Linked DNA regions of Homo sapiens. The protein of the gene in region 1 interacts with the protein of each later gene in a pairwise test. Each region holds a gene or a part of one and is shown in the gene's direction. Other genes may lie near its edges. The genes, in order: SH2D1B and STAT4.

Region 1 (3,826 bases):
TTTCCACCAATGCCTTACTTTGTAAACTCAATACAGACAAATGCTCTTTTCTGTGACATTATCTCTAAAAAGCTTCATCCTACTAAGAGCAATTTCCATTTTGTTGAGAAGTGCTGTCTTTTAGTCCCTGAGGGCCAAGACAGAGAGCTTGCTGCGTTTGCAGCCAGGATAGCAAGAGTGGTTCCTGGGCAGACAGCTGACTTCAAATTCATTCTGTGACCTTGTGCAGACGATTCAAGTTTGAGAATAAATGGGCAAATGGGCAGATTTTCAAATGAGAAAATCACTCTAGCCCTTCAAGCCCTCCCCAAAGCGTATACTGTTACACTTTGCTCAATATTTGCTAAGCATTCATTTATAAAGTGCTGGGTGTCAAATTATGTCAGATACATTTTTAAAGGCATTAAGCCGTAGTGGAAAATGAGAGATGGTCAGTAAATCTGAGTGCAGAGAATCCCTGCCTAAGCCTCTCAAATTATATCATGAGCAGCTACTCTTCCTTACCCACACTCTTGAAATCTGCTCTCAGTAAAGAATTTACTATCAGTTGCAATGTTGTTTGAATTTAGCTCAGACTTCCAGAAACACTTAGGTCTTAATCCTGTTTTCCCATGTTGGAATGTGTGGTTATATTCTCAGTGAAAGGGATGGCAGTTATCAGTGGCAGGTGATGGGATGAGATCAGATATCCTCCCTAGGAGAGGGACAGAGGACAGAGAGTTCTCTGGGAGCCTGCAATCACTCCATCCCCATTCTACTCTGTCTGCGGCAAAGTCACCCTTTAGGCTGCCATAGCCGGCTTCTCATTTCCCCAGCAAGGCTAAGCATAAAATACAACTCCCTTCCCTACCATTGTGTCCCTGTCCCCCCATCCCCATGAAGGGCAGTGTGTACTCATGGACACAAAAAAATCACTTTCTATAGGTCCAGCTGCAGATGTAGTCCCACAGCTACTTTCCCCCCCAAATTTATAGAATAAAAAGTATACAGTGTGGCAGATCTAGAAACCCAGGAATGTATCTGTGCTGCAGCCCTTAGGCAAACCCAGATGAGTTGCTGGGACTGGTTGGGGTGGTGGTAGCATTTGTCTCAACAATGAGAAAAGAATCATAAATCCCAGGAGGAGAACCCTCAGAAATCTTCCCCAAGACCTGGGCATGAATCTCACTCCATCAGTTTTCCATGCCGGGTCAGTGCTGACACAGCAGGCTCCAAAATTCTCAGCTACTGAAGAGGAAATATTCCCCATCAACCTCTTCCTCCCATTCCCATTGCTTCCTTAGAAGAAGCTTCAGATGTTCTTACTCCAAGGGAGGTGCAGATTTCTTGCTGGTGAATGGAGACACTTGTGCTGGAAGGTCTGAGGCTTGGCTTATAAAGAGATCTCCTATTTTGTTAGGAGGGCTCCCTGTAGTACCCCAGCCTTTAAAGATACAACTTTCAGGTGGCATCAACATGGCTCTGTGCCTGGGGAGGGGTCTTCTTTCCTTTGAGTGGGGTTGTTTGATATGACTTCTGGGTGTGGTCTCATGGCTGGTCTTCTGCTTTTTTTTTCCCTCCAAAGAACAGTAACAGCGATTATGTGGATGTCTTGCCTTGAAGATAAGGCTGCCGGACAAAGCAAGTTGAAGAGATGAGTAACAGTTCTCACTGATGACCCACTTCTGCAGGCATAGGTCCAGAGCACCAAACTCTAGTGGACAATTCAGACTCTCCTGGTTGTGTAACTGAAGATGTTCTGCCCACCAGCACCAGAGGTCACTCTCCACATCCCCGCCTCCCAGACATATACCAGGAGCAATTTCAAAACCCTCTCCAGTTTCACTCTTCTTTCTTGGAATGGGACAGCCTGAACATTTTCCCTTTGACTTGTTAAAGGTACCACCCTACATCATGGTTGACACCCTCCTTTGGACCATGCAGTCAGAGGGGCAGCTTTATACAGAGGAGGGGCACACTTGTCTGTGAGTTTGAAGCCCTGAGTTCCAGTCCTGTGGCTGTGTGACTTTGAACACGTTTCTGCCCATCTCCAGGTCTTAGTTTCTTTGTCTCTGTGGTTGGGTGGGATGATAAACATTGCCCCAGTCTCTCTGTTGAGCCTGCTTGTGTCAGGTGAAGGTGAGGGATCGGGAGTGATGGAGATGCATACAGATCAGCACCTTCTCTGTACCTGCTGGACCCCCATGTGCACCCTTCTCCCTCCAGCCTGGGCTACTCTCCTCCTGGTTCTTTCTAATCTTAAACTTCCTGGTGAGCATTGCCCCAGCCACACTTTCTCCCTGGTTTTGCTTAATTCCACTTATGCATCAGTCATTTCAACAGCATGAATGTGGTTCTGTACAGTGATGTATGTGGAGATTTCTAAAATATTCTATGTGTGATTTCTGTTCCCAACTAGGTTCTAAGTGCCATCAAAGCACGGTTGGGTCTCCCTTGTATCTTCCACAGTGTGTAGAAATTTGTGCTGCCCAGAGCTGTGCCTAGTTCATAGAAACTGACTGGAAGCACATTGCTGAGGGAGGTTTGTTGAATTGGTTTTTAAGGTTTACTGAAATTGATTTGCTGAATTTTTCTGCTAGTTCAAAATGTGAATTAGGACCTGGTCAGTTTGAAATATACCAAATTCTATGCCCTTTCTCTTACCTATCATCAAATTGTAGTAATGTATTTCACCCCACTGGACTTATCTTCAGAGTTTTAAAAGAGAGGAGCTCTCGACTTAGAGGTAATATGAACAGATGAACAGACACTGTGGCTGGAGCCCCAAAGTGTGGAGCATTGTGAGATTTGGGGTCACAGCAATTTATGGCTACTATTCCCTGGGTCTGGTAGGTAGGACAAATGTCCTCTTTTACTTTTCAAAACTGGCTTAGGTATTCATGGACCTTGATTCTTCTATATACATTTTATAATAAATACGTGAAATTGCTTAAAACCTCTTTTTGGAATTTTTAATGAACTTGCAACAAATTTGTAAATAGGAGAGAACTGACGTTCTTGTGATGTTTTCCCATGCATAAACATGCCACATCCATGTTCTTGGGTCATCTTTTTTGCCCTTTCATGGAGTCATAAATTTTCCCAACTGAAGTCTTGTATATTCTGTTAGATTAATTCCTATTTCTAGTTGCTGTAAATGATATCTTATGTTTTATTACATTTCTAATAGGATATGGTGTTGGTGAAATGTTAACCCTCTCATTAGATCTACTAGTTTACCTGTTGATTCTATTGTGTTTTCTATGTAAATGATTTTGTCAGCTATAAATAATAACATTTTATTTTCTCTTTCCTTGCAATACCTATGCTCATTTATTTTTTATGTTTACCCATTGGTTAGGGCCTCCTGTATACATTAAACAGTTCATAGTCATGATAGTGAGTATTCTTACACTGTTCCCAGTATTACAGGGAATGCTTAGAAATTTTCTTTATTTAAACATTATGTTTGTTGTAGCCTTGTTAAAGGCTATTTTATAATTTTTACTAGAAATATTTTGACATTTATTGTGATTTTTTTCTATCTCTAATCTATTGAGATAGTCACATTCCTTTTGTCTTCACTCCATTATAAAGGTAAGTTACCTTAATAAAATTGTTGATATCATTTCATCCTTGCATTGCTTCACTTGATAATATTTTATTATTTTTCATAAACTGTGGAATTTGGTAAGTTAATATTTCATTTAAGATTTTTGCATTAAAACTCATAAACCAAATAGGACTATAATTTACTGAATCATGGTTACACTGTTCATATAAAGCGAAGAAAAGTCTTTTTCCTTTTACCATTTTCTGCAACAACTCTTCAGGTAAAGATTATTTG
Region 2 (3,786 bases), on another chromosome or scaffold:
GGGGGCCTCTCATAGCCACTTGGAGAGCTTCAGTTTTCTCCTTTGTAAGACAGAAGTGGTGCAGGCTTCATGTCTATGACTGAGGGAAAGGAAAAGAAAGAGGGGGTAATGATGAGAAGCTTTTAATAGTAAAACAAGTCTGTATATTGCAAAGGAACCCCAGGGTTTATAAGTTTTATATTTTTAACCTTACTGTAGTCTTACAACTCAGGGTATTTGTTCATTTGCTAGGGAGGGGACCTGTGGATCTCTGCTTCATCCTCTCCCTCCCCCACACTCCCAGCCTACCTTTCCTGGTTGTATCCTAGGACCTAGAGCAATGTCTGGCTAAAAGAGGGATTCAGTAAATATTTGTTGAATACATAAAAGAAAATTTGTTAAATTACTATGCAATTTTAAGGTACGTTCACCATTCTGTTTCTTTAATGAAAGTGTATACAATCCATAAAAATCTTCATCTATAGCACTAAATCTTTGGGCACCATCATGTAGAATATCCTACAGTTGTCACTCACAGACTTGCAGCCACCTGACTTCATGCCCTCTGAAATAAACAAAAATACAAAAGAAAATAAAATCAAACAAACCTGTGGCTTTTCAGTGACTTTCAACAACTGATAAAAATGAAATAACAAATATCAATGCAACAAATTAGGGTTGGAAAATTGGAACAAATACTAGTTCAACATGGTATACCAGAGAAGTTTGGGGAATTTTTCCAAGGTGAGGTTTGCACATGACTGTTACTACAGTACAATGATACTTTTGGGAACACTGACATCTGTACTTCAAGAACGTTTGCAATCATAAGATTCTGATTGGTGTCAATTTTAATGAAAAGAACTGGGTTATTATATCTCCCAAAACATGACTCAATCAGTCCTTATAATCAAACATAAATGAAACGTAGAAAACAGGTAATAGAGTTGATTCTCAATTTTTCCCACACAGTTTAGAGGCATTAATATGTAAAGTCAGATTAGGCCTGCCAAGAGATTTGTTTTTCTCTTCTTGCACATTTTATGCTTATCTAAAAGATTGTGTCCCCTATTTAACAAAACATTTCTGTGTATCACCGAACAACTGCGTTATCTCTCTTCCTCTTATCATTGTTAATATTTTTCTAGACTCTTTTTTCCCCAGTTTTATTGATAATATTGACATTTTTTTCCCCAACATTGTGCCTTTTTGTTTTCCAGTTTCAAGACCAACAGAAAGGGGTGACAAAGGTTATGTTCCTTCTGTTTTTATCCCCATCTCAACAATGTGAGTAATGTTAGTCACATGTGAAATATTTTTATAAAAAGCTTTCCTATAGGAGATTTAAAGGTAGAGCAGAGTACACATAACTGAGAACAAAGCATTGTAATGTGCAATGTCCCATTTCCTTTAATACATAAGGCTAGCCTTCAGGGCACACTTACCACAATCTATTGTGCCTAAAATTATAAAATTCCCCTTTTATATGCCATATATGCCACAGTAAGTTGAGTGTTCTGATATGAAATGATGAATTAGATAACTCAATGTCACAAATAGATGAAGCCCTAGAAATGAGTTCCTGACATAGTAAGTCACCGTGAACTATTATTATTTTTTAATCCTTGTCCATATTGACCTTGTTATCTCTTTAAGCCGAAGTGATTCAACAGAGCCACATTCTCCATCAGACCTTCTTCCCATGTCTCCAAGTGTGTATGCGGTGTTGAGAGAAAACCTGAGTCCCACAACAATTGAAACTGCAGTATGTTCCCTTTATTTTCCATTGCTGGTCAAAGGTGTTTCCAACGATGCAAAGGTGGTGTGTGAATCAAAGGGGCTGAAATACTGCCTGGGTAGGGAGAAAACACATTTATTGGAACAAATTCATGAGCATAACACAAAAGGTGTCTGGATGGTCCTGCGTGTTGCTGATATTATGCGTATTGAAAGCAGACACCTTCAGTTACTTAAACTGCTTTACGTTGTTTCCACCAGAAACCACCAGAGGGCAAAATATTCCTATACCCTACTCAAGCACACTATCGCTGCTTGCACCATGGGCCCCCTCACTCCCCACCACTCTCTACTTTAGCAAACACCATTTATTGGTCAATATTTATAAACCTAGTATACTATCTAGTTTACTAGTTACTTACTATCTAGTAAACCCAGTTTGCTATCTTAACAGTGCAAACATCACAAATTGCAATTTTTCTTGATTGTGACTTGCATTTCTAGAACCCGGAGCCTCATCAATAATATATGAATAACAGTCAATGGCATAATAATGCTCTCCTTTTTGAGAAATGAGTCATAATCTTTAATGCAATAATGTTATTTGGGATGCATGCTATTTGCTCTTATCCACCAATACTGTCAATGGGTTCAAACCCCCAATTTACATGAAAGTGAACATACATCAGAATAATATAATAGAAACTTGGAGAGACCCTAAGCCTCAAAAAATTTTTATCTGGCTGGCTTTTAGTCCTTCTCTTGAAGATTTCCATAGATGAAAAATTCACTTTACTTTGATAGCTTATTCTAATGTTAGTTCCCTTAAATCGTCAAGTTATTTATGTCTAACTGAACATTTGCTACATTTTGCACCCATTTCCTCATTATGTTTTTGGTGGATAAACAGGCCTTTTTCTTAAAACACTTTTCTGTCTCCTTGAAAGGTACCTTTTATTTTAGACTGATCAACCCCAATTACTTTTGCAAATACTTAGTTTAAGTATTTTAACTAGGTAATAGAAAAATTATGGAGTAATTCGTAGAAAAGAGGACGTTTATTTGCCCAAGAAATAGTGATTGATTTGAAAACCAGTAGTTTCCTCAAAGATTATTTTCATTTTTAATTTTAGATGAAGTCTCCTTATTCTGCTGAATGACAGGATAAACTCTGACGCACCAAGAAAGGAAGCAAATGAAAAAGTTTAAAGACTGTTCTTTGCCCAATAACCACATTTTATTTCTTCAGCTTTGTAAATACCAGGTTCTAGGAAATGTTTGACATCTGAAGCTCTCTTCACACTCCCGTGGCACTCCTCAATTGGGAGTGTTGTGACTGAAATGCTTGAAACCAAAGCTTCAGATAAACTTGCAAGATAAGACAACTTTAAGAAACCAGTGTTAATAACAATATTAACAGAAGACTCGCTTGCCTGTGTTTGGTTTATTTCTCATTTTGTCTCTCTGGTGTTACTACGATTTTAGCTAGAAGATGTAAGTGTTAATGTTTCAGGGTAGGTCAAGAATAATAAAGTCACACCTACACCTCAGCAAGAAGGCGTGAGGGAAAAGCCAAATAAGCCAATCAGTATGATGAACGCTAGCAGGCATGGTGATCACAGTAGATCCAAGAGGAAAGTCGTGATGGGACATTAGCAGAAATTCACGGGGCATCCAGGGTTGAATTATGAAGCCTCCTTAGTGCCATGTCAACGTTATTCCAACTATGGGGTTCAACAGCTGCTGGTTCCAAAGGAGGAGGGATCCAGAGTCATTCCTGGTGGTATCTTGGGCAAACTGCACTGATTTTACAGGTATTGTAAGCAGACACATGGGTTAAAAAAATAATAATTTAAAAAAACTCATGAGGACTAGGAGGATGAAATGAGGACTAGGAGAATAACAACTCTGGCCTTGGGTAACTGATTTTATTCATAGGTTGCTCATTCTTCATCTCTAGAAGAGGTAAGACTATGTGGGTTCTATGATCTTTCCCAGCTCTAATAGTCTCTCTGGTCCTAAGAATCCAACCTGAGACTGGGGAAAGAGGTTTAGGATGAGATGTTCCAT

Evidence for each region.
Region 2: the proteins of SH2D1B (region 1) and STAT4 interact in a two-hybrid assay, tested with the Homo sapiens proteins (one large-scale study listed by BioGRID and IntAct).

The regions. Positions count from the first base shown.
Region 1 is NC_000001.11:162,395,054-162,398,879, reverse strand, and holds the end of SH2D1B (SH2 domain-containing protein 1B), read left to right. Parts: intron 1-1,564; coding exon 1,565-1,600; 3' UTR 1,601-3,612; downstream 3,613-3,826. UniProt on the Homo sapiens protein: Cytoplasmic adapter regulating receptors of the signaling lymphocytic activation molecule (SLAM) family such as CD84, SLAMF1, LY9 and CD244. In SLAM signaling seems to cooperate with SH2D1A/SAP.
Region 2 is NC_000002.12:191,028,930-191,032,715, reverse strand, and holds the end of STAT4 (signal transducer and activator of transcription 4), read left to right. Parts: intron 1-401; exon of another isoform or gene 402-544; intron 545-1,199; coding exon 1,200-1,266; intron 1,267-1,618; exon of another isoform or gene 1,619-1,635; coding exon 1,636-1,744; exon of another isoform or gene 1,745-1,831; intron 1,832-2,849; coding exon 2,850-2,876; 3' UTR 2,877-3,140; downstream 3,141-3,786. UniProt on the Homo sapiens protein: Transcriptional regulator mainly expressed in hematopoietic cells that plays a critical role in cellular growth, differentiation and immune response. Plays a key role in the differentiation of T-helper 1 cells and the production of interferon-gamma.